Homo sapiens: one gene and its partners. The protein of the gene in region 1 interacts with the protein of each later gene in a biochemical or structural test. Each region holds a gene or a part of one and is shown in the gene's direction. Other genes may lie near its edges.

What was found.
Region 2: the proteins of DTNB (region 1) and SNTG2 form a complex in vitro, tested with the Homo sapiens proteins (one study listed by BioGRID).
Region 3: the proteins of DTNB (region 1) and DMD form a complex in vitro, tested with the Homo sapiens proteins (one study listed by BioGRID).
Region 4: the proteins of DTNB (region 1) and KIF5B form a complex in vitro, tested with the Homo sapiens proteins (one study listed by BioGRID).

Annotation. Positions count from the first base shown.
Region 1 is NC_000002.12:25,376,721-25,383,596, reverse strand, and holds the end of DTNB (dystrobrevin beta), read left to right. Parts: intron 1-4,273; coding exon 4,274-4,278; coding exon of another isoform or gene 4,279-4,307; intron 4,308-6,043; coding exon of another isoform or gene 6,044-6,267; 3' UTR 6,268-6,354; downstream 6,355-6,876.
Region 2 is NC_000002.12:1,359,836-1,366,876, forward strand, and holds part of SNTG2 (gamma-2-syntrophin), read left to right. Parts: intron 1-7,041. UniProt on the Homo sapiens protein: Adapter protein that binds to and probably organizes the subcellular localization of a variety of proteins. May link various receptors to the actin cytoskeleton and the dystrophin glycoprotein complex.
Region 3 is NC_000023.11:33,201,522-33,208,562, reverse strand, and holds part of DMD (dystrophin), read left to right. Parts: intron 1-7,041. UniProt on the Homo sapiens protein: Anchors the extracellular matrix to the cytoskeleton via F-actin. Ligand for dystroglycan.
Region 4 is NC_000010.11:32,008,498-32,011,449, reverse strand, and holds the end of KIF5B (kinesin-1 heavy chain), read left to right. Parts: 3' UTR 1-2,435; downstream 2,436-2,952. UniProt on the Homo sapiens protein: Microtubule-dependent motor required for normal distribution of mitochondria and lysosomes. Can induce formation of neurite-like membrane protrusions in non-neuronal cells in a ZFYVE27-dependent manner.

The DNA of each region.
Region 1 (6,876 bases):
GGAAGTAGATACAAGTAGAACACAAAAGATGACCCTTTGACTGGAGAAGTTTATGATCTAGTTAATAAAGCAAGACCAGGCCAGGTGCGGTGGCTCACGCCTGTAATCCCAGCACTTTGGGAGGCTGAGGCGGGTGGATCACAAGGTCAGGAGTTCAAGACCAGCAGGCTGGCCAACATAGTGAAACCTCATCTCTACTAAAAATACAAAAAATTAGCCAGGTGTGGTGGCAGGCGCCTGTAGTCCCAGCTACTTGGGGAGAATGAGGCAGGAGAATCACTTGAACCTGGGAGGCAGAGATTGCAGTGAGCCGAGATCACACCACTGCACTCCGTCCTGGGCAACAAGAGTGAAACTCCATCTCCAAAAAAAAAAAAAAAAAAGACCAAAAATGCAAAATAAATAGATCAAATGAAGTGGCAGAAAAAGCTAATCATAAAACTTTCAGCATATAAGTATAATAAGGGTTTCTGAAAAGGAAGAGATTGTTGTGGACTAGAATAGCCAAATGGTTTTGTGGCTTCATGGAAGAATAAAACCAAGAAGGGAAGGTGTCAGCAAAGGACAGTAGTGCCTTCCTAGTTTCATTATATATCGAACCTGCTTAACACATGACATCTGGGAAGAGCTGCAGGGAATGATTTTCACGTATGATGATCTCATCTAATCCTTAACACTGTGAGACAGATTCGAATATCCCCATTTTACCCATGAGGAAATAGGCTCAGAGAGATGTTGTTCATGTAGCTGTTAAACGGCAGAGATTTAGGCCAGACGTGGTGGCTCACACCTGTAATCCCAGCACTTTGGAAGGCCGAGGCGGGCGGATCACTTGAGGCCAGGAATTCGAGAGCAGCCTGGCCAACATGGTGAAACCCTGTCTCTACTAAAAATACAAAAATAAGCCAGGTGTGGTGGTGCATGCCTGTAATCGCAGCTACTCGGGAGGCTGAAGCAGGAGAATCCCTTGAACTCAGGAGGCAGAGGTTGCAGTGAGCCAAGATCACGCAACTGCACTCCAGCCTGGGCAACAAAGAGAGACTCTGTCTCAAAAAAAAAAAAAAAAAAAAAAAAAAAGGCAGAGAACTGGGTCTTTCTGACTCCAAACTTCGTGCTCTTAATCTTCATCCTTCTATGTTATACTGAACAGAAAACAAAATTTTCTTTGGACATTTGAGGGTGAGCTGTTCTTTCTGTTGTGCATTAATGTGTTAGTTGCTGGATTCCTCCTAAACATCAGCTCCTCAAGGCAGAGATTTTAGTCTGTTTTGTTCATGTTGTGTTCCAGTGCCTGGTGCTTAGTAGGAGGTCAATAAATGAACAAATCAAAGGAAATAAATGGGGTGATGAGATAGAGAGTACCTTATCGGGGAGAGAAATGCAATGGCTGGTCACCCCAAGGAGGTGAAGGTAGGGAGAGCAGGAAGCATGAGGAGGAGCCAGCAGCAGCCCTCCCAGGGAGGAATTCTGAACAAGGCTCGGGGGAGTGAAAGAACCTGCCAGCTGATAAATGGCACAGCCTGAGTTCAACTCCAATGCCCATGGTTTAGTCTGAGCTGAACTGGTAGACTAAGGGAAGTGGAGTGGTCTTACTTAAGGAAGGGTAGAAGCCAAGTGGGAGATACAGGTAAGGAAGCTGTGACAAGAAAGGGAAACCTACAGGACAGTGGGTCTGGAGCATTCTTGGCCCATAGGGGCTGGAGTGGCTAAGACAGGGTCGTCTTTGGAGTCTCACGGGGCAAGGAATTTGTCAGCAAGGACCCTGAAATTGCTGAGGAAGAAACTGGGAGAAGAGGAAGAAGATTCTGCAGATTCTGAAATCGTCTAGTGAGTCTGAGCTAGGCCTGGGAGGAAGTGGACAGCAGCGCCAACGAGTTGATGAGAATGACATATGTGGCACGGACACCAAAAGGTCAGACTAGGCTGGGCATGGTGGCTTACACCTGTAATCCCAGCACTTTAGGAGGCTGAGGCAGGGGGATCACTTGATGCCAGGAGTTTGAGACCAGCATAGGCAACATAGCAAGACCCCATCTCTACAAAAAATAAATTAGCCGGATGTGGTAGTGCACACCTGTAGTCCCAGCTGCTTTGGAGGCAGAGGCAGGAGGACTGCTTGAGCCCAGGAGTTTAAGGCTGCAGTGAGCTATAGTCACGCCACTGCATTCCAGCCTGGATAACAGAGCAAAGCCCTATCTAAAAAATAAAAATAAAAGGTCACATTAGAGAGCAGTAGTGTTTCAGACATCCAGGAATGCTTCATAGAAATGTAGAAACAATTGACTTACCCACACAGACAAGAAAGAAGGCAGGAGGGCAAAAGGTGAAGAGATACACAGATAAATTTACACTGGTGTAAACACATGCTGCAAACACGCGCACACACACGCACACGCACATGCACATGCACATGCCAACCAAATCCTAGCATTCATGTGGAATGTTCCTGGCTGAAGACATAACAGCTGCATCTCTGGCCTCCCTTCACCTGCCCCTCCCTTCCCCAGTAGCTTTTTCCCATGGCCTCTCCTCAGTCCTTTTCACTCCACCAAAGCAAACCTAGGACTGCCCCAGCCACTGAGGCCTTGCCCTGGCCACGAACTCTAGCCCTTATCCTGGTTCGAGTCTGAGTGTGGGCCATGCCTCACATGGGAATCAGACTGGGTTTCCCTTGCCCAGCCCTCCAGGCCCCAGGGTGCTGTCTCTGCACCTGCACTCCCCTGTCCACATCAAACTGGGTTTCCCTTGCCCGGGCCTCCAGGTCCCAAGGTGCTGTCTTTGCACCTGCACTCCACTGTCCACATCAGACTGGGTTTCCCTCGCCCGGGCCTCCAGGCCCCAGGGCACTGTCTCTGCACGTGCACTGCCCTGTTCGCATCAGACTGGGTTTCCCTTTCCCGGCACTCCAGGCCCCAGGGCACTGTCTTTACACCTGCACTGCCCTGTCTGCATCTCTTCTGTCTTTCTGTGCCTCTTGCCCTTAGAGCTCCTTGTCTGTCTTTCAGTGCATATACCAGAATGTCTGTATGTCTATGTGAAATCTTTTTGTGGGAATGCCTGAATTTTTACGTATGTGACTTTCTGGTGTCATCCCTAAGGCCAAGAGTGTTAAGAGTTGGGGTGAGAGATGGTAGAGTTTTTTATGTTTGGCTCTCCACATTATATAGGTTCTAGGATATGTCCCTGAAACTACAACGTAGCTCATACATGGGCATTTTTATAAGACTAAGTGTTTTTATGGGTGGACCTCCTGATTCTCTGCCATGAGCTAGGCCTGAGATTTTACAGACCTAGGACTAACTGCAGTCACCTGGACACCAGAGATCTGTAACTGTCAACCGTAAAGAGAGAGAGTATATTTGCTTCTTTGGGGTTGAAACCATACTGACGTAATATAAACAGAATTTGGTCAGCACCATCAGGCAAACATAGTCTGCTCGATAAGGAAACTGTGAGAGTCAAATGGAACTTTTGAAGAATCTAGACCAAGCTGAACTTCCCTGCCATATTCACCCCTGCCTCACGCCTCTCCCTGTTCACCCCTGGCTGGCTGGCTGCATCCTGGGGAATGCTTCTGCTCCATCGGGGTACCCTTCCTCCTCTGCATCTCCTCAAGAGAAGTGTAACCAAGACACATAGAAGAAGCACAGACTAACACACCTTCCCCCATAGTACATCATCTCCACCCTCCACAGCCTCATGTTATGCTCCTGTGTCCTTCACAGTCTCCCCTCCCATACCCTGCCATCCCGGTGTGGGGGCTGTAAATCCAGTTTGCATCCATAAAGAGCCCTGGTGCAAGGCTGGACAGCAATGGCCCTCAGAGAACAGAACAGGCTCAGGAGGGGCCAGGCAGTGCTCGAGCCTCGGGTGAGCAAGCGCAGGGCTTTTCAAAGCAGACCATCTGCAGGAGGGGGACCGCCCTCACTCAAGGCGCAGTCATGTTCCCTTGGGGAACTTTCAGAGCTGAGTGGGCTTTGCCCCCCTCATGTAACTGCTCCCTGGATTTAAGGAGTTTTGATTCCATTTTTTAATGACTTTCCTTCTCCTGAGAAGCATCTGTCTCCATGGCTGCCTCGGGTTGGCTACAGTAGTAGAAAGTATGACTCTACCCTGCTGTCATACCTGGGTGGGAAAAGTCAACAAACGAGTAACGGGAGAAGCAAGGAAGCCCCTGGGGTGGGTTGGTCAGGGAAGCCCCTTTGAGATAGTCTGGGGCATGAGAAGACCTGGCCGTGACCTCAGTGTGTTGTTTCTGCCCATGCTGCCACAGGTTAGCAGAGGAGCCGGACACAGAGGAAGCTCAGGTGAGTACAAAGAGTCCTCTGCCTCCCCACGGCCCCTCCCTCCTTCCTCAGCATCTTCCCTTCCCCTCCCTTCCTGCAGTCACAGGTCCCTAGCCAGGGCAGTCCTAACAGGTGAAGATGCAAGAGCCCAACTGTCCCTTCCCTTTGCCCACCCCAGCCATGTGCCCTCCTTGCCCTGTTTCTAGGCTGTGTCCTGTCTTGCACAGCACTGTCTGCAGGCCTGGTCCTTGGGCATGGCCTGGTGTCCTCTGTGTTGGGATGGCATTGGCAGACCCGACACTGCTGGCTGAAACAGGGTGTGCTGAGCAAGGCCACCTCCCTGGGGAGCACTGCCTCCCATGCTCCTTTCCCACAGCCACTGCCCACTTCCTTCCTGGGATCCAAACCACAGCCAGTGCGTCCCTGGATTCTGTCACCCAGCACTGCACCGAATCACAGTCCCTGACCCACAGACATGTGATTCATGCAGGATCACACTGACTACAGGGCTGACCAAGCCGCTTCCCATGGTGCCCGGCCAAGCTGCACCTTCTCACTTCCTGAAGAAGCAATGCAGAAAAGTACGGACTGCTCCAGTGGCAGATGCTCATTGCCTTTAGGAATTAGTCATTCCCATTTTCCAGCTCAACACCTTAATTCTTTCTAGTCCCAGCACCAAGATATCAGACTTCTCCATTTTAAAATCTTGTCTTCCCTCCCCTCCTCCCACCCCCCCACCTCTTATATTTAAAAATTAGGCATCTTCCTCGAATAAAGAAGTCAGGGCCCTAGCTGCACAATCCAGAAAAGGGGTTTTTTCAGACCCTCCCAAGTCGTGTCATCCTGGAATAGCCTCTGGCCCTCTCTGCCCAACCGCGCCAGGCCATTGAAGGCCTCTGCCCGCTCCCCCGGGGCCCCTGCAGCCTCGGCCTGCGCTGACTCTGGATTGTGCGAGCTGAGGAGAGGGCAGCACCTGGGCCACGCACATTCTCTCGCTGCCCTGGAAATCACAGCGCCCCAGGGGCTTGGAGAGAGGCTTCTCCCTAAACTCACTGTGCACATTCAGGCAAGGCCCTTTCCCAAGCAAGCCTAGGCCGTGGCAGCCGAGGAGGGAAATCAGGAACTGACTCGCCCTGCAGGAGCCTGCCAGAGCCCCTCTCTCCCCGGGGCAGAAGGAACTGGGGTGCAAGGGAACGTGGCAGAGCCATGTGCCCCCACCGCCTTGTTGCACATGGAGGAAACCAATGCCCCACACCAGAAGCTCCATGCCAGAAGCAGAATTGGAGCCGGGTCTTCTGCCTCCTAATCCTGCGCTCTCTGACCCACATCAGGGGTGATGAGAAACACCAACAGCCGAGAGTTAAACTAAGAGTATAAAACTTGGGTGCCGCGGATTCATGGATGCCCAGGCCTGCGCTCTGCTGGCCGGGGGCTGAGGCTTCCTCCCTTTCCTCTTAGTATTCATCGGCACACCTCAGTCCTCCCTGCCCTTCTCCTGGGCCACAATTCTCCCCAAGAAATCACCCCATTCAAACCTTGCATTGTGAACCCAATTCTTTCTTCCACGGAAACACTTCCTGACCCTTAGGAATGATGGCAGAGGACCCTAGGTACCACCCTTCAGCCCAACGCTTGAAAGGCGCCCAGCATCCTAGCAGCCCCTCCCTGCAGGGCCTCCTGTTCACAGTAGATGTTAGCAGCTTTTGTCCTGAACCCTCAACAGTGCCCGTGACTAACGGTGAGTGTGTCTTGCGCAGGCACAGAGGACGAGGAGCAAGCTGGCGCCGACATGGCGAAGGCAAGGTCTTCCCCCAGAGGCACATTCCTCTCCATCTTTCCACCGCACACCTGGACCAGGCTTGCAGGCTGCCAGACGTCACTCCACCCGCCAGGGAGAGGGGAGCCAGAGCCGGTGGGAAGCGGGGAGGGGCTGCGTGGCACAGCTAGTGGGCCTCCCCCTGCACAGCCCTGCATGTACTAGCACCTTCATCACTCCCCTCAGGGCATGGTCTCATCTCCGCATCAGGAATTCACCTGGAGGTTGAAAAGAGAAAAGAAAAAGCACCAAGCTCTTGTGTGTTTGTGACCTGATGAAACACTTCCTGGCGTCTGGCCAGCACGTGGGGTGCTCCTGAACGTGGGGGCACAAGTTTCCTTATCTTTGACCTTTAAAAACCAACAGGTTTCTTCCAGCGTGCAAAGAAAGCGTCAGGCCTTGCTCGGCTCTGTAGACATTCACACCCTGGCCACGGTGCTAAAAATAGTCTCACACTGGTTAGGCTTCCGCCCGCCCCGTGTGATGCCGCCGCCTGCAGCCCGGGAGGGAGGGGCGGAGACCCAGCCGCGCGCCGCAGCCGGGCTGAGCCTCCTCGGAGAGGGCGGGAGGGTCTCTGCGCCGCGGACTCCGTGGCCGCCAGGGGGCGCGCCGCCGGGGGCGCTGCTCGCAGCCTCTCGCCTTAGGGGTCGATTGGGCTCGGGCACACGTGATCAAGTCCCGTTCCCGGTGATTTTCATTTATTTTTTCCTCCTCCCTGGGCTCCAGGATGTTATTTTTAGCAGAAGAACTGCTATAAATATTTATAAAGGGCAG
Region 2 (7,041 bases), about 24 Mb from region 1:
ATTTCTTTGCATGTTTTTTCTCTTTCATTAGAATGCTGCCTTTCTGTAGTAATATTGAGAAACATTTTACTTTGTCCATATCTTCTTTCCATTTAACAATATTACCAAAAACAAGCAAACAAAGAAACTAAAGCTCAATTTATTCAACCAAAAATGGTTATTTATCTTCATTTCTTTACATTTAAGGGCACTGAACAAATTCTATCCCATTTTTCCCATAGGAAAAAAAAAAGTACATTAAATGATTGAAAGAAGTTATCTGTATTCATTTTCTATCGATGCTTAACAAATTAACACAAATATAGTAGATTAGAGACACACATTTATCCTCTTACAGTTCTCTAAGAACTTGTCTCTTAGGGCTAAAATCAAGGTGTTGGCTGCTTTCTCCTGCAGCCTCTGGGGGACAGTCTGTTTTCTTGGCTTTCCCAGCATCTGGAGGCTTTGCCCTTGTGCTCTGAGCTCACCTGTGCCAGAAAGCTCCAGCCACCGCAGCTTTGGAAGCATGCCTCCCTCTCTGCCCTCAGAGTGGAGGATCTTGTATGAAGCCTGGATCACCAGCCCAGCCTGTTCAGGAGAGCTCTCTCTGGGGTGTGTTCCTTCCAGCAGCACAGCTTAGAAGGAAGGTATAGGGTGGAAGTTCAAAAGGATCAAGATATTTTTATTTCCAGAAGGTTATTGGACTCTTTGTGCACTGGCACCTGCCACAACAAGTGAGGGGAAGCTCCTTGCCTTTTCTATTTCCCTTATATTTGTGTGACTAAAAGAGGCTACTCTAGTGTTTTTAATTTCCTTTTCTTAAAAACACAAACAAACAAAAAAAAAGTCTGTCCCTAGGGGATTTTCTTTCCTTCTCACTCAGACAGAAGCAGCAAACATACGGTGTCTGATTTCACCCCCCTACATCCAGCATCATACACAGATGAGCAAACCCTTCACTCAGGAAGGGGATGAGTGATTTTTCTTTCAATATTTGTAGAGATGGAGTCTCTAAATAAGAGAGCAGTGTCTGCTTGGCCTACCATTGGAGCCTGATTCTGCATAACGATTCCAGTCACCTGCGTGTCCCAGTGGTTTTTTGTCTTACTTAAGAGAGTTCTTTTGGAGATCCCACCCACAGGCTCTGACCTTATGGAATATTCAAAGCTGATGCAGTCCCCAGCGCTGTCTCTTCCATTCCACTAGCATCCATCAACTCAGTCAGCTCAGACACAGCCCTGAGCAGTAAACTGCGTCCTTGGGGCCTTTGGTCCAAGCCTCAGTGCTTTTTCTAGCTTTGCCTTCTGTGCTTCAGCCACTGGATTCAGATTCCATTGTCCCATCTGTGGGGGCCAACGTGAAGCTTTAAATAAACATGTAAACATCTTTTATTTGTTACAGCCTGTGACATTATGATTACATCATTCTCCACCAACAATAAGAAAATTTACATTACAATGATTTGTCCCATTGAGTGTGTAGCACGAAATTCTCATGGAATTTAATAAATGGTCATCAAGTTGACCCATTTAAAAAAAAAAACTCACAGAATTTTGAAAACCACAGCATGGCAAATCATTATTGGAGACAGACAGTGCAATTAACACAGTGAGGTGGCTGAGAAGTTCCACAATAGCAAAAGTATCCCGCCTTCTTCAATCTACTTTTCTCCAAATCTATGCAAACAAAGAGTGTTTAAAAAATATAACTTTTTAATATCAAACACATTTTGGGAAATGCTGCTGTGTTGATACCATCACATTTCAGTAAAACTTCCATGAAAGTCACCGACGCTGAGCATTTCAGTAGAACTTCCACGAAGGTCACCGATGCTGAGCATTTCAGTAGAACTTCCATGAAAGTCACCGACGCTGAGCATTTCAGTAGAACTTCTGTGAAGGTCACCGATGCTGAGCATTTCAGTAGAACTTCCATGAAGGTCACCGATGCTGAGCATTTCAGTAGAACTTCCATGAAGGTCACCGATGCTGAGCATTTCAGTAGAACTTCCATGAAAGTCACGGATGCTGAGCATTTCAGTAGAACTTCCATGAAAGTCACCAACGCTGAGCATTTCAGTAGAACTTCCATGAAGGTCACCAACGCTGAGCATTTCAGTAGAACTTCCATGAAGGTCACCAACGCTGAGCATTTCAGTAGAACTTCCATGAAAGTCACTGATGCTGAGCATTTCAGTAGAACTTCCATGAAAGTCATTGATGCTGAGCATTTCAGTAGAACTTCCATGAGAGTCACTGAGGCTGAGCATTTCAGTAGAACTTCCATGAAAGTCACTGATGCTGAGCATTTCAGTAGAACTTCCACGAAGGTCACCGACCCTGAGCATTTCAGTAGAACTTCCATGAGATACACCGATGCTGAGCATTTCAGTAGAACTTCCACGAAGGTCACCAACACTGAGTGTTTCAGTAGAACTTCCGTGAAAGTCACCGACGCTAAGCATTTCAATAGAACTTCCATGAAGGTCACCGACACTGAGCATTTCAGTAGAACTTCCGTGAAAGTCACCGACGCTGAGCATTTCAATAGAACTTCTGTGAAGGTCACCAACGCTGAGCATTTCAGTAGAACTTCCACAAAGGTCACTAACGCTGAGCATTTCAGTAGAACTTCCATGAAGGTCACCGATGCTGAGCATTTCAGTAGAACTTCCACGAAGGTCACCGACGCTGAGCATTTCAGTAGAACTTCCGTGAAAGTCACCAATGCTGAGCATTTCAATAGAACTTCCATGAAGGTCACCGACACTGAGCATTTCAGTAGAGCTTCCATGAAGGTCACCGACACTGAGCATTTCAGTAGAACTTCCATGAAAGTCACCAACGCTGAGCATTTCAGTAGAACTTCCGTGAAGGTCACCGACGCTGAGCATTTCAGTAGAACTTCCGTGAAAGTCACCGACGCTGAGCATTTCAATAGAACTTCCACGAAGGTCACCGACGCTGAGCATTTCAATAGAACTTCCGTGAAAGTCACCGATGCTGAGCATTTCAGTAGAACTTCCATGGAAGTTACCAATGCTGAGCATTTCAGTAGAACTTCCATGAAAGTCACCAACGCTGAGCATTTCAGTAGAACTTCCACGAAGGTCACCGATGCTGAGCATTTCAGTAGAACTTCCACGAAAATGACTGACACTGAGCATTTCAGTAGAATTTCCATGGAAGTCACCAACGCTGAGCATTTCAGTAGAACTTCCATGAAAGTCACCGATGCTGAGCATTTCCATAGAACTTCCATGAAAGTGACCGGCGCTGAGATGGAATGACTCCTGTGAAACCCTCACAAAATGGACCCCCCCCATGAAAGAGGAACCATGAATATTTACCTGATAACAAGAAGTACCACAAAAGACCCTGGCAACACCACAAGCTGCACAAAGACCACTGCAACCTTGTGCAAAGACAAGTCTTCTATGAGGACACAAGCTCCCCTTGCTATTGATCCTTGTAGCCAAGGATAACGGTTTCAAAACAACTTCTGTAACCTCCTCACTTTGCCTTTAAGCTTTCCTGAATCCCAGCCTCTTTGGATATCCCTATAATCTCTTATAGCACATATGTCCCAGCTTGCAATTGCCTACATAGTCCCAAATAAACTTTGGGAGAGCCTCTCTCTGTCATTGTATTAGGCTGACACTCCCTAACCCAACATATTGGACTGTTCATTCCACACTGTTTCCTGCACAGAGAGCCAGCAGGTGCCCTTTCCTCTGCAGGTGGAAACACATCAGCCCATGACCGACATGTGAACACAGGTGAGGAGTGCAGCGAGGGATCCATACAGGGTGTCCCCAGCTTAGAACTCAACACAAGTATTTTGTTCAAACAAAATGTCAAAATGTGATTTCAATCAGCTCTAGTTAAAAATTCATAATTCAAGATAGCCTTGCTGGTAATACTTGGTTAGAAAATTAACCAGACCAGAGATATCATGACTCAGCTTTTGGCTGAATTGAAGATGTTCAGTGAAATGCCCACAGGATGCTTGTTTATTCAGTATCTGGATCATGACATAATGGATTGAGTATTGTTTCATAAGCTTTAATTTCATTCCTGGCTTTCAGTACTACTCATTGAGTTTTAGTGTGGAATTTAGTGGTGTGACCGATTTCACTGCTAGCTAGTAATTTCTTTTATTTTCTTTTTTTTTGAGACAGAGTTTCACTCTTGTTGCCCAGGCTGGAGTGCAATGGCACAATCTCGGCTCACTGCAACTTCCGCCTCCCGGGTTCAAGTGATTCTTGTGCCTCAGCCTCCCAAGTAGCTGTGATTACAGGCACCTGCCACCATGCCCAGTTAATTTTTAGTATTTTTTTTTTTTTTTGGTAGGGACAGCATTTCACCATGTTGGCCAGGCTGGTGTCAAACTCCTAACTTCAGGTGATCCATCTACCTCGGCCTCCCAAAGTGCTGGGATTACAGGCGTGATCCACCATACCCAGCCATTGCTAGTACTTTCAAAGATTATGCAGTGTAACTTCAACTTATGGTACCAAAAACTATTGATGTTGTTTTGAATATGTGCATTATTACTGGTAGCTGTTTGGCTTCTTATTTCTGTGCATTGTGCTATTATTGGATACATCTTGGGAACTTGTAAAGCAATTTTCAGTTTCTATGTATAAAACCAAAACCCTGGCCGGGCGCGGTGGCTCACGCCTGTAATCCCAGCACTTTGGGAGGCCGGTGCTGGCAGATCACGAGGTCAGGAAATCGAGACCATCCTGGCTAACACATGAAACCCTGTCTCCACTAAAAATACAAAAAAAAATTAGCCAGGCATGGTGGTGGGCGCCTGTAGTCCCAGCTACTTGGGAGGCCGAGATGGGCGGATCACGAGGTCAGGAGGTTGAGACCATCCTGGCTAACATGGTGAAACACCATCTCTACTAAAAATACCAAAAAAAAAAAAAAAAAAAAAAATTAGCTGGGTGTGGTCACAGGCACCTATAGTCCCAGCTACTCAGGAGGCTGAGGCAGGAGAATGGCGTGAACCCAGGAGGCGGAGCTTGCAGTGAGTGGAGGTTGTGCCACTGCACTCCAGCCTGGGCGACAGAGTGAGATTCCGTCTCAAAAAAAATAAAATTAACCCAAAACCCTGAAGCATGAATGATATGGTCATTATGGCTCTTTTTCTCCAAAAGTCCCTTTAAAGCTCAGTAATTGCTATTTGGAAACACATACATACATTGAATTACAATATGTGCTAAGTTTGCAAGAACCTTGTGTTTCTTCTAGAAAGCTACTTGGTTTTTTTTTTTTCCTCTAACAGGGATAAGTCAAAATGAATAAAAGATTTTGAGTACAGTCTCACGCTTTGGGTATGATTGGCGAATCCAGCTTGAATTAAAGTTTAACACAAGGGCTGGGCAGGCCCTGGGTTCCACTCATGACCAGAGTGAGGGATGCTGGTTACCAAGTGTAATGACGCTTTATGAAACTACCTAAAGACTATGAAGCTTTGGCAGGAGAATACACCTCAACATCTTGAACATTTTGCTCATCACAATTTGAAATGATCAAAATAATTAGTGTTGTAGCTGTCAATGTTAAGAGTCATTCACATGCATAGGAAGGAACTTAATTCAAATTGGAATAAAGGAAAGATGAAGCCTTTGGTTGCAGTCACTAGGAGGTTGGGGGCAGCTCCCAGCATGTTGGTACCCAATGTCCCCCAGTGTTCTTTGTGTATCCCTGCATGGGGTGTTCCTCTGTGTTGAAGTCCTCTTCCGGCAGGCTGGCTCGCTGGCTCTCCACTTGGCATTAGTGGTATTAGAACAAGCTTCAGGTATTCACTTCTCACAGCTGGTCACACCAATGTAGGCATCTTGGCCTCCCTCTCCCTGTCATCTGTACCAAGCTGCCACTGGGCTCTGGCTGGTCCAGCTGGGTCCTGTACCTATTGCAAGAGAGAAGCAGTTTCTAAAAGAAAGGCATGCAGAGAGGACCAGGGAGAGGCCGAGGGGACTTCATGCTGTCAGGGAAGTTTGAAGTCATTTTTGAGATGTCACGTCTTTGAGTTATAAAGAAAAGCAGCTCCGAAAAGCTGAGATGGATGTTATTGGGGAGGGAGGGCTTTACCCGGTGATGTGTGACCTCCAATCCTGCCTGGGGCCCCATTCTCCACCCCCTCATTCTGCCATGGAATGAAAATGACCAAGATCCTGCCTTTCGAGAGCTTAAAGGAGCATGTCTGTGGAACTGACAGGCCTTAGCGTTGCTCTTCTTCTTGAAAATGATTTATCTTTCTTTCTGGTGTCATCTCAGCAGTTTAGAATATGCTAGAATTTTGGTGAGATTTAGAAAATAGGATGTCAATCAATTAGCAGTCACCTCAAAATAAATTTTATTTTCTTCATTTTATTGAATTTTGTTATGCAAACAAAGAAGAAAGACAACATTAGAAGAATGCACTTAGACCTTCTTTTCTACCAATAGAATGGGGGTGGCAGGACGGCAAGATTCGTATTTTACCATCAAAAACAGGAAGATGATTTTTCCCCAGTAACTGAATAACTTCTAAAAACAGTTTCTTTAACTTCTGTGTCAGCTTTGGGGTTCACTGTGGACTTTTCTGTTGATTTGACACAGGGACTTTATGTGGGGCAGTTTGTGGAGAGAAGATGAACCTTTTGTGGGTCATTTTTGCTTTTACAGGACATTTAGTGTCTGTAACATGCGGAGGTAAGGATCCAGGAGTTTGTTTCAGTTTTTTTATTGGGAGGGGGTAGGGGTATAACCGTCTCTCTAGGAAACTCTCCCTGGGGCACCCTTTCCTGCTCTCCCGTAGCCATGGGGACAGGGTGGGTGAACAAGGCCCCTCCTCGCTTCCCGCCGTGCTGTGCACACTGCCTATTCTGCGCCACACAGCAGGCGCTGTTCCTCCCAAGCGTGGCCTTGGCATGAAGCCCACACGCACCCACACAGCAGGCGCTGTTCCTCCCAAGCGTGGCCTTGGCATGAAGCCCACATGCACCCACACAGCAGGCACTGTTCCTCCCAAGGGCGGCCTTGGCATGAAGCCCACACGCACCCATAC
Region 3 (7,041 bases), on another chromosome or scaffold:
TAAGGAATTGACAAATGAGACTAATGTACATTCCCTGTCTGACAACACAGAACGAACCAGGAAGAAAGGATTTATGGGGCCTGAGGTTATACAATTGGGGGTGCTATTTTAAGAAAAATAATAGAAAATTGGATACAGCCTTGGGAGGGGCCCCTCATGTAAGTAAGGCTTTAATAGTTTCTTGGGAAATCACCTCTGTATGAAGAGATGTGTTGACATTTAATCTTTTCCCAGTTACATTTTAAAATAAAATTGATGCTAGTTATATTTCTTTAGAGCATTTATTATTTCTCAAAGACAACCTTTTATTTAATGCAGATTAGAGAGTTAAAAGAATTTATAATGGTAGGAATTTGACATTTCTGCCTTTCATTCTGAAAAGATACATTGATTAAAGTGATGTCAAACTCAGTTAATGGAGGCGGTGCAGTTATTTGAAATATACAGGGTATATAATTTGAAGGCACGCCAAATCACAATGACAAGGAATAATGATGACCTTGGTTTATTTTTATACAGTACATTCAGGTTTTGATTGGATTCAGAGAGAGGCAATGGTTTTCTTTCTCACAAAGTCCTGCTATAGTCCTAGGAGGTTTGTGTTCTGTTATCAAGGCAGTTGGTTCGTATTGGAATATTTTCTGGGGAAGGTCATGGGCTGCAGTGTGGGAAATAAACGTTTTTATTAAATGCAACCAGGTTTCATGAAAATATTTCCCCTTGTAGAGTGTGCTCAATGCAGTATACTGATCTTCAAAAAACAAACAAACCAAGCAAATAAATAGTTTGTAGTCTTCACCTTTTCCCTACGTAAAACATCTATTAGTTAGACTTCCTTGGGGTTTCATGCTATAAAATATTGACATATGTTTGGAGTTCTGAAGTTTCATTTTAATACAGATATCAAAGTTAAAATGGCAACACCATGGGATAATTTATTATTTTACCAAGTTTGGAGGGTTTTTTCTATTTATGTCACTTATAGAATTGTCCCTAAAATCCTTGCAAAATTTCAAGCTCCCTCTACTTAATACTAAAAGTGAATGTGTCTTCCAGAGATTCTGATAACCCCTTCGAATGGGAGAGTAACTCTGCTATTTGTGAATCACTCCTATACTAAATATAGTTCCAAGATTAAAAGCTAAAATGATTTTGTTTATTTTTTCATGAAATTTTTTCATGAAAGGCTTGATAGTATAAAAAGTCTGTTTCCCTCATATATTACAGCATATTATAGCATTCAATGTGCCTTCTTAAACCAGATGGCTCCTCTAGAGATTATGAAATACTTTAACACCCAGGGCATAGCCTTTCTGTTTCCCCATTCAAGATTACTTCCTTGAATATGGCCCAACAAAAAGACCAAAAAAATACATTTGGCTCCAGCGTTTTAAGGGCATATAAATTTTCTTAAGCACAATTCTGATAGGCAGCAGACAAATGAGAATGAGGAAGGGAAATGGCTCTGCTGTCTTATGCTTAAAAGTGTCCTCATATAGAGAGAAACAACACACCCTGGGGCCTTTCGGAGGGTAGAGGGTTGGAGGAGGAAGAGGATCAGGAAAAGCAACTAATGGGTACTAGGCTTGATACCTGGGTGATGAAATAATCTGTACAGCAAACCCCTATGGCACAAGTTTACCTATGTAACAAACCTGCACTTGTAGCCCTGAACTTAAAAGTTAAAAAAAAATAAAATAAAAAGAGTCCTCATCTCACGGCCATACAACCTCTACCTCATTCCCATTAAAAACACAAAGATCAGTACTCCCTCTTTTATAGCTCACATCTTCTGTTTAGGCTGCCATTTTAAGGGATAATTTCTATTCAACTCTGAGCTCGATCTTTATTTTAATCTGATATCACTCGTTCAAAATACTTGGGAATTTCAGTAGGCAACGGAACACACAGAGCAATTTTCTGGAGGCCTACAACCTCTGAAGGTGACTTTGCGTAGTATATGTAATGATAGTAAGCCCTGAGAAAACCAATGTTCTTAGTAGTCTGGATTTGGTTTAGAAATCAATGTATTCCTGCTTTCTTTTGTGATCTTTTGCCTTCTCCCTCAATGCCTCACTTTCACTCTGTCATTATGAACCCCATTCCTCACTAATGGGAACTGGGGGAGAATGGACAATGATCCTTTAATTGAAATGGAGTTGTCATTTCCTTGCCATGCTGATAAAATGTTGTTGCTGTTGTTGTTTGTTGTTGTTCTTAAATGACTCTTTCAGAATTTTTAACTCAGTATTTTGATTACATACCATTTTAAGAAAATAATTGTCCATAAATTAAAAATGCTAGCAAATTGATGAATTGATTTTCTCATGCCAATTTGGAAATCTGAAATATATCTAAGACTGGTGAATAATATGTAGGTCTAATTGCCATTTGAATAAAAGAATCTGAGGAAGAGCTTTGCCTTTATTTTTGTTTATTATTCATTTTAGTTTAGTTATTTATTTTAGTAGAAAAATGTGGTTGTGTCAACGAAGAGGAGGTACATTAAAATGCATTATTAAAGCCAATGCTTATCCATGTAATGAAATGAGAATGTAGATGGCTTAATGGGTTTTGGAGAGGATTAAGATAATTTTAAAGAAACTTCAAAAAATCAGATGCTCGAATCATGATGTTTTTTGTTTATATTTAATAAATATGAAAACCATACATGGGCATATCAACAATGAGGAATTCACATATATATCACGAAGTCTCTTGCTAATTTGTCAACTTTTAAATGTGTTGTCTTCACTATCATGAAAATTTTGATTTTTAAAAAAGGTCAGTGTTAGCTGAGCACAATTACCATTACGGTGTCCCATATTATTTCCAATTATGGGCAAATAAAATGCTTACCCTTTAAATGTTTTTACCCTCTTCTTGGCTTTTGTTTTGTTTTGTTTTAAAGCGTTCTCCCTTCTTCCACTCTGCTTTTGGCTAAGACTGTCATGGAATCAGGACTATAAAAGGGCATAAACATCAGTAGCTTTTTTCTCATTCCTGGCACTCATCTTTATTTGCACTCAACTTGTCTCTTCCTTTATCAGATTACGGTTGCAATAGTACCTTAGCCTGAGCTAAGTGCTGACTTAAAGGGCAAGGGAGTCAGTACACTGTTACAAGTGCAGATTTTAGCCTTGGAAGCTGTGTGAGGAAAAATTAAAGAAATAAGAAAGAAAAATCACAAAATCAGAATGGCCCACGTATTTTCATCAAAGGCAAATTGAGTAATTCCTTTTTATGTTGGTGCTTAAGAACGATGTATTAGAAATAAATTGGTGACTAAGTGAACAAAATATTAATAAACTAGTTGAGTAAGTGAAAAAATAATAATCTGTAAAAATGATGAATCCCAATGACTCACATGTTGCAAAATAACTAGGAAGCAAAAGGGAAATTAGACTTTAAAGAGCGTAATCAGATGCAAGAAATGTTGGCTTGTAGGTGGTTAACTAAAATCGCTTACGGGAAGCTCAGACAGCTGGGGAATCCTGATTTAGTAGACGCTGAAGGGCAGGGCATGAGCCATGTGAACAGCTGCTGAAGAGCTAGAGGATTCCTTTGGATTAGGTGTACACACCCCGTCTCTAATGGGCTGTCAGAGAGCACCAAGTGTTATCACAGAGGTTCACTTTGCTCAAGCCTATGGCTTTTGCAGTGTTTTACTTTAAATGTCTGAAAATGGATTGGCTCTCAAAATAAATCCAAAAATAAAAGTATCAAAATAAGTGACTCTCTAAAACTTGTATTGTGTGGTTTTGGGTGACCACAGTTTAAAGAAGGGACTTACAGCTGATGATTTGTTATCCATTTATTGATTCATTTGTCCATGTAACAAATACACATATTGAGTGCCCATTTTGTGCCAGGTACTGTGCTATGCTCTGGCGATAGTATTCTAAACAAGTGAACTCAAAGAGAGACTAGCATTTCAAGGAGGATGTGCATATTAAATACACACACACGCAAACTACTTGCATTGGAGATAAGGGCTATAGAATAAAGCACACATTGTAATAAGAATGTATAATAGGGAGAGTTAGACCAGTCTTCGAAATTGGGGAAATACTTCTGAGAAAAAAAAAATATTCAAAGCAAGGCAAAGAAGAATGAGGTTAGAGTATAGTTGTCCAAAAGAAAAGAGGGAGCAAAAATGTCCCTGTCAGAGGGAGCAATGTTTCTGAATGTGGAAAATGGTATGGAGAAAGATCTAAAACAAGTACAGCTTTCCTAGAGTACAGTGAGGGCAGAAAAGTGTGGAACAAGCTTGCATCTGAATGGCCGACTGGGGTCCAATCATTCAGAGCCTTGAAGGTTATAGAAATTATTTTTCTCTTTATACTAAGATCAATGGACAGCCTTATGGGTTTCAGGTAGAAAACTGATGTAAACATATTTGTATTTTTTAAGACTATCACTCTGTTTTGTGTGAAAGAGATTGGCAAGTGCCTAGGGTAGATGAAGGACTATCAATCTGAAGCAATTACGGTAGCTCATCCAAAAGAAGGTGATTTGGACTAGAATGGGGACAGTGGAGATGAAAGAAGTAAATCTATTCAAGATTTGTATATGAGATAGAATCAATAGGAATTGGTGTTGTATTGCATGCTGTGTGCTCCATGAAATGCACACCTGGGTGGATAATGGTGCCATTTGCAAGGAGATTGGAAGGGAAATTGGAACAACAGGAAGGATTAGGGGTGTGGATGCTAAGGTGTTTGTTTTGTTTTGTATTTTTATGTAGCGCGTGGGTATTGTGCCTAGAAATGAAGTCATTATTAGGGATTTAAATATGCAACTCATGGAGTGGATGAGACCAGCTAGAAAGATAATAGAGTGTGAAGAGGAGATCGGAAATTCAATAAAGAAGACAAAAGCACTAAAAAAAAAAAATCAGAGAAGACACATCTAGAAAAAATGATGAAATTCTAAGGAAAATAATATTTCCATAAAGAGGTCTGTTCCTTTCGATCTCCAATTTAATGACTTCATGAATGAGGATCCCACTTTTAGCATTAGGTGTCTTGGTTTCCACAGTCTCTACCATCTATTTACCCCTAATTTCCTCCCATATTGCTATTTCTGTGAATATTACCAAAATGTTGCCTTAGTAGAAAAGCTTCAATAAATATTTAAATTGTATAACGTATTCAGCTTTTTCCTGTACTCTGCACTTCCTAAAAATACCTTCTTCGGAAACCCCATTTCAACTGACTACTGTATAATGAAATGAGCCTTCAGTGTAAAACATTTATCATAGTCTCAATTTCAATTGCTCAGTCAGAATTGTTGAGTAATATGAAAAATCATCCTTTAGAGAATACAGAATTGCATAGTTATGACAAGGTAAGTTTGCACTTTATTTAATGCTAGTTTAGTTAATATAGATGCTTATTGGAGAAATGTCTAAAAATTCTGGAGGACCGTTAGTGAAAGTGATTATCCCAATATCTGCAAAAATGGTAAAAATACCTAGAAAACATTGACATTTCAGTTTAAATAAAGCCAGAATCACAATAAAGAGATAGAAGGCATTTGAGTAATTCAATCTAATCATGGATGAATGTAATGTACTTATCAGTTAGCTTTGGAGGAAGTAAGACTCGATAGAATAGTAATATGATATTGAGCAACTTTTTTTAACATTAGGTTTTTAATTGCTTATAACTCAACATTGTTGAACACCTATGTTCTCTTTGCTTTTTATGAGACAGCAACTCTAAGTCAGAGAACAGATACACACACATATGTATATGCGTACAACTACTATAAAATATCAAGAAAGTTATAAAGCATGGTACAAATCAATCATAAATGATTACTTATGAATAGTGTGATTATGGACATTCTCATTGAAGAATCCATTTTTATAAATAGGCATAAGAGTATGGACATACAGAGATGTGAATTAGAGAATGATTGCAAGAAGCAGTGAGGCAAAAAGGATTAATGAAACATTGATCTGTCTTACATACACAGCTATTGACAGTACCTTGTGTGTGCATAGCACTATTCTAGATTCACCTAATCTTCAATGATAATACTGTATTTACCATTTAACAAGCCTGTAATAAGTGTCAGGCACTTCTCTGATTACATCACATACATATGTGATAAGTTCCATATTAACTCTAGAAGGTGGGGAAACATAATCATCTAAATTTACCAGATGAATATGTAGAGGTACAGGGAGATTAAGTAATTTGCTTAAGGTAGCTCAGCTGGTACGTGGTAGAGTCAGGATTTTAATGGTGGCAGCATGACAGTAGGATTAAAGATTCTTAACCAGTCAGTTGTCACGATCTCTCAGATTTTAATAGAATTCTAAAAAGGATAGAACAAAATATAAAATGGCAGGAATCATAGTATCTTCTAACAAGAACTAGACATGTCCCATTGAGGATGCTCTTTAAAAATAAAACCCATTAAAATTTTGGGTTGTTTACTCAAAGCCTATAGACATTGGCATATTATATTTTCTTAGATAAAAACTGAGATATCCTAAATAACTCATGCCCATTCTCTAGACTTGCATAGGGAGCTGTCTATGATAATATCCATAACAGTTATCTTGTTTCACAATTTTATTACTATCTCACTCTTCTTACTTTGTGAAGATGAAAAAGATCAAAAATAAAACTAATGCAGCCCTGGTTTGTTTGTAATCATCTACAGTTAGCCATCCTTAGAGTGGTCTCACTAGTTGTTCTTTTAGAGTTTATTTCAGTTATGTACAGGCAACTGTGCTACATGAACAAAAAGCTAAGAACTGGGCTAACCTGAACATGATTTAGTATTGTAAAAAAATGGTTTACATAGATTAACGTGCCATACTATTCTGAATAGTACTTGGCATAAACAGTAGGTTATTTAAGTTACTATAATTACTGTTGCCTTTTTACATAAACTAATTTTTCTCTTATCTTCATTATGTTAGTCATCCACAGTGTGATATTTAGTTGCATACATTCATATAGTGTACACTGTACAATTCTAGAGTGTACCAGTAACGTGGACTATTAATATTATGCTATGAGG
Region 4 (2,952 bases), on another chromosome or scaffold:
TACTCCCTTGGGATTGTAGAATTATAACTTTTAAAAAAAATGTATAAATTATACCTGGCCTGTACAGCTGTTTCCTACCTACTCTTCTTGTAAACTCTGCTGCTTCCCAACACAACTAGAGTGCAATTTTGGCATCTTAGGAGGGAAAAAGGACAGTTTACAACTGTGGCCCTATTTATTACACAGTTTGTCTATCGTGTCTTAAATTTAGTCTTTACTGTGCCAAGCTAACTGTACCTTATAGGACTGTACTTTTTGTATTTTTTGTGTATGTTTATTTTTTAATCTCAGTTTAAATTACCTAGCTGCTACTGCTTCTTGTTTTTCTTTTCCTATTAAAACGTCTTCCTTTTTTTTTCTTAAGAGAAAATGGAACATTTAGGTTAAATGTCTTTAAATTTTACCACTTAACAACACTACATGCCCATAAAATATATCCAGTCAGTACTGTATTTTAAAATCCCTTGAAATGATGATATCAGGGTTAAAATTACTTGTATTGTTTCTGAAGTTTGCTCCTGAAAACTACTGTTTGAGCACTGAAACGTTACAAATGCCTAATAGGCATTTGAGACTGAGCAAGGCTACTTGTTATCTCATGAAATGCCTGTTGCCGAGTTATTTTGAATAGAAATATTTTAAAGTATCAAAAGCAGATCTTAGTTTAAGGGAGTTTGGAAAAGGAATTATATTTCTCTTTTTCCTGATTCTGTACTCAACAAGTCTTGATGGAATTAAAATACTCTGCTTTATTCTGGTGAGCCTGCTAGCTAATATAAGTATTGGACAGGTAATAATTTGTCATCTTTAATATTAGTAAAATGAATTAAGATATTATAGGATTAAACATAATTTTATACGGTTAGTACTTTATTGGCCGACCTAAATTTATAGCGTGTGGAAATTGAGAAAAATGAAGAAACAGGACAGATATATGATGAATTAAAAATATATATAGGTCAATTTTGGTCTGAAATCCCTGAGGTGTTTTTAACCTGCTACACTAATTTGTACACTAATTTATTTCTTTAGTCTAGAAATAGTAAATTGTTTGCAAGTCACTAATAATCATTAGATAAATTATTTTCTTGGCCATAGCCGATAATTTTGTAATCAGTACTAAGTGTATACGTATTTTTGCCACTTTTTCCTCAGATGATTAAAGTAAGTCAACAGCTTATTTTAGGAAACTGTAAAAGTAATAGGGAAAGAGATTTCACTATTTGCTTCATCAGTGGTAGGGGGGCGGTGACTGCAACTGTGTTAGCAGAAATTCACAGAGAATGGGGATTTAAGGTTAGCAGAGAAACTTGGAAAGTTCTGTGTTAGGATCTTGCTGGCAGAATTAACTTTTTGCAAAAGTTTTATACACAGATATTTGTATTAAATTTGGAGCCATAGTCAGAAGACTCAGATCATAATTGGCTTATTTTTCTATTTCCGTAACTATTGTAATTTCCACTTTTGTAATAATTTTGATTTAAAATATAAATTTATTTATTTATTTTTTTAATAGTCAAAAATCTTTGCTGTTGTAGTCTGCAACCTCTAAAATGATTGTGTTGCTTTTAGGATTGATCAGAAGAAACACTCCAAAAATTGAGATGAAATGTTGGTGCAGCCAGTTATAAGTAATATAGTTAACAAGCAAAAAAAGTGCTGCCACCTTTTATGATGATTTTCTAAATGGAGAAACATTTGGCTGCATCCACATAGACCTTTATGTTTTGTTTTCAGTTGAAAACTTGCCTCCTTTGGCAACATTCGTAAATGAAGCAGAATTTTTTTTTCTCTTTTTTCCAAATATGTTAGTTTTGTTCTTGTAAGATGTATCATGGGTATTGGTGCTGTGTAATGAACAACGAATTTTAATTAGCATGTGGTTCAGAATATACAATGTTAGGTTTTTAAAAAGTATCTTGATGGTTCTTTTCTATTTATAATTTCAGACTTTCATAAAGTGTACCAAGAATTTCATAAATTTGTTTTCAGTGAACTGCTTTTTGCTATGGTAGGTCATTAAACACAGCACTTACTCTTAAAAATGAAAATTTCTGATCATCTAGGATATTGACACATTTCAATTTGCAGTGTCTTTTTGACTGGATATATTAACGTTCCTCTGAATGGCATTGATAGATGGTTCAGAAGAGAAACTCAATGAAATAAAGAGAATATTTATTCATGGCGATTAATTAAATTATTTGCCTAACTTAAGAAAACTACTGTGCGTAACTCTCAGTTTGTGCTTAACTCCATTTGACATGAGGTGACAGAAGAGAGTCTGAGTCTACCTGTGGAATATGTTGGTTTATTTTCAGTGCTTGAAGATACATTCACAAATACTTGGTTTGGGAAGACACCGTTTAATTTTAAGTTAACTTGCATGTTGTAAATGCGTTTTATGTTTAAATAAAGAGGAAAATTTTTTGAAATGTAATGACTTTCTTAAAACTTAAGTGTTAGGTTGATTTTACATGGCTGAGTTCAGGCCTTCTGTCTTGACAGAATAGTGACTGATATGTCATTATATTTATGTATATTTTGTTTCCTAATGTCTTGCAGCCTTTTGGACCGCAGATATTAAATGTATAGGCTAAAGAGCTAGAAATGAATGACCAGTCTCACATATAAAACTTTTTTTTTTTTTTTTTTTTTTTTTGAGATAGAGTCTTGCTCTGTCGCCCAGGCTGGAGTGCAGTGGTGTGATCTCGGCTCACCGCAACTCTTATCACCTGGATTCTAGTGATTCTCCTGCCTTAGCCTCCCAAGTAACTGGGATTACAGGCATATGCCACCACGCCCAACTAATTTTTGTATTTGTATTAGAGATGGGGTTTCACCATGTTGGCCAGGCTGGTCTCGAACTCCTGACCTCATGTGATCCTCCTGCCTCGGCCTCCAAAAGTACTGGGATTACAGGCGCGAGCCACTGCACCCGACCGGTGTCAC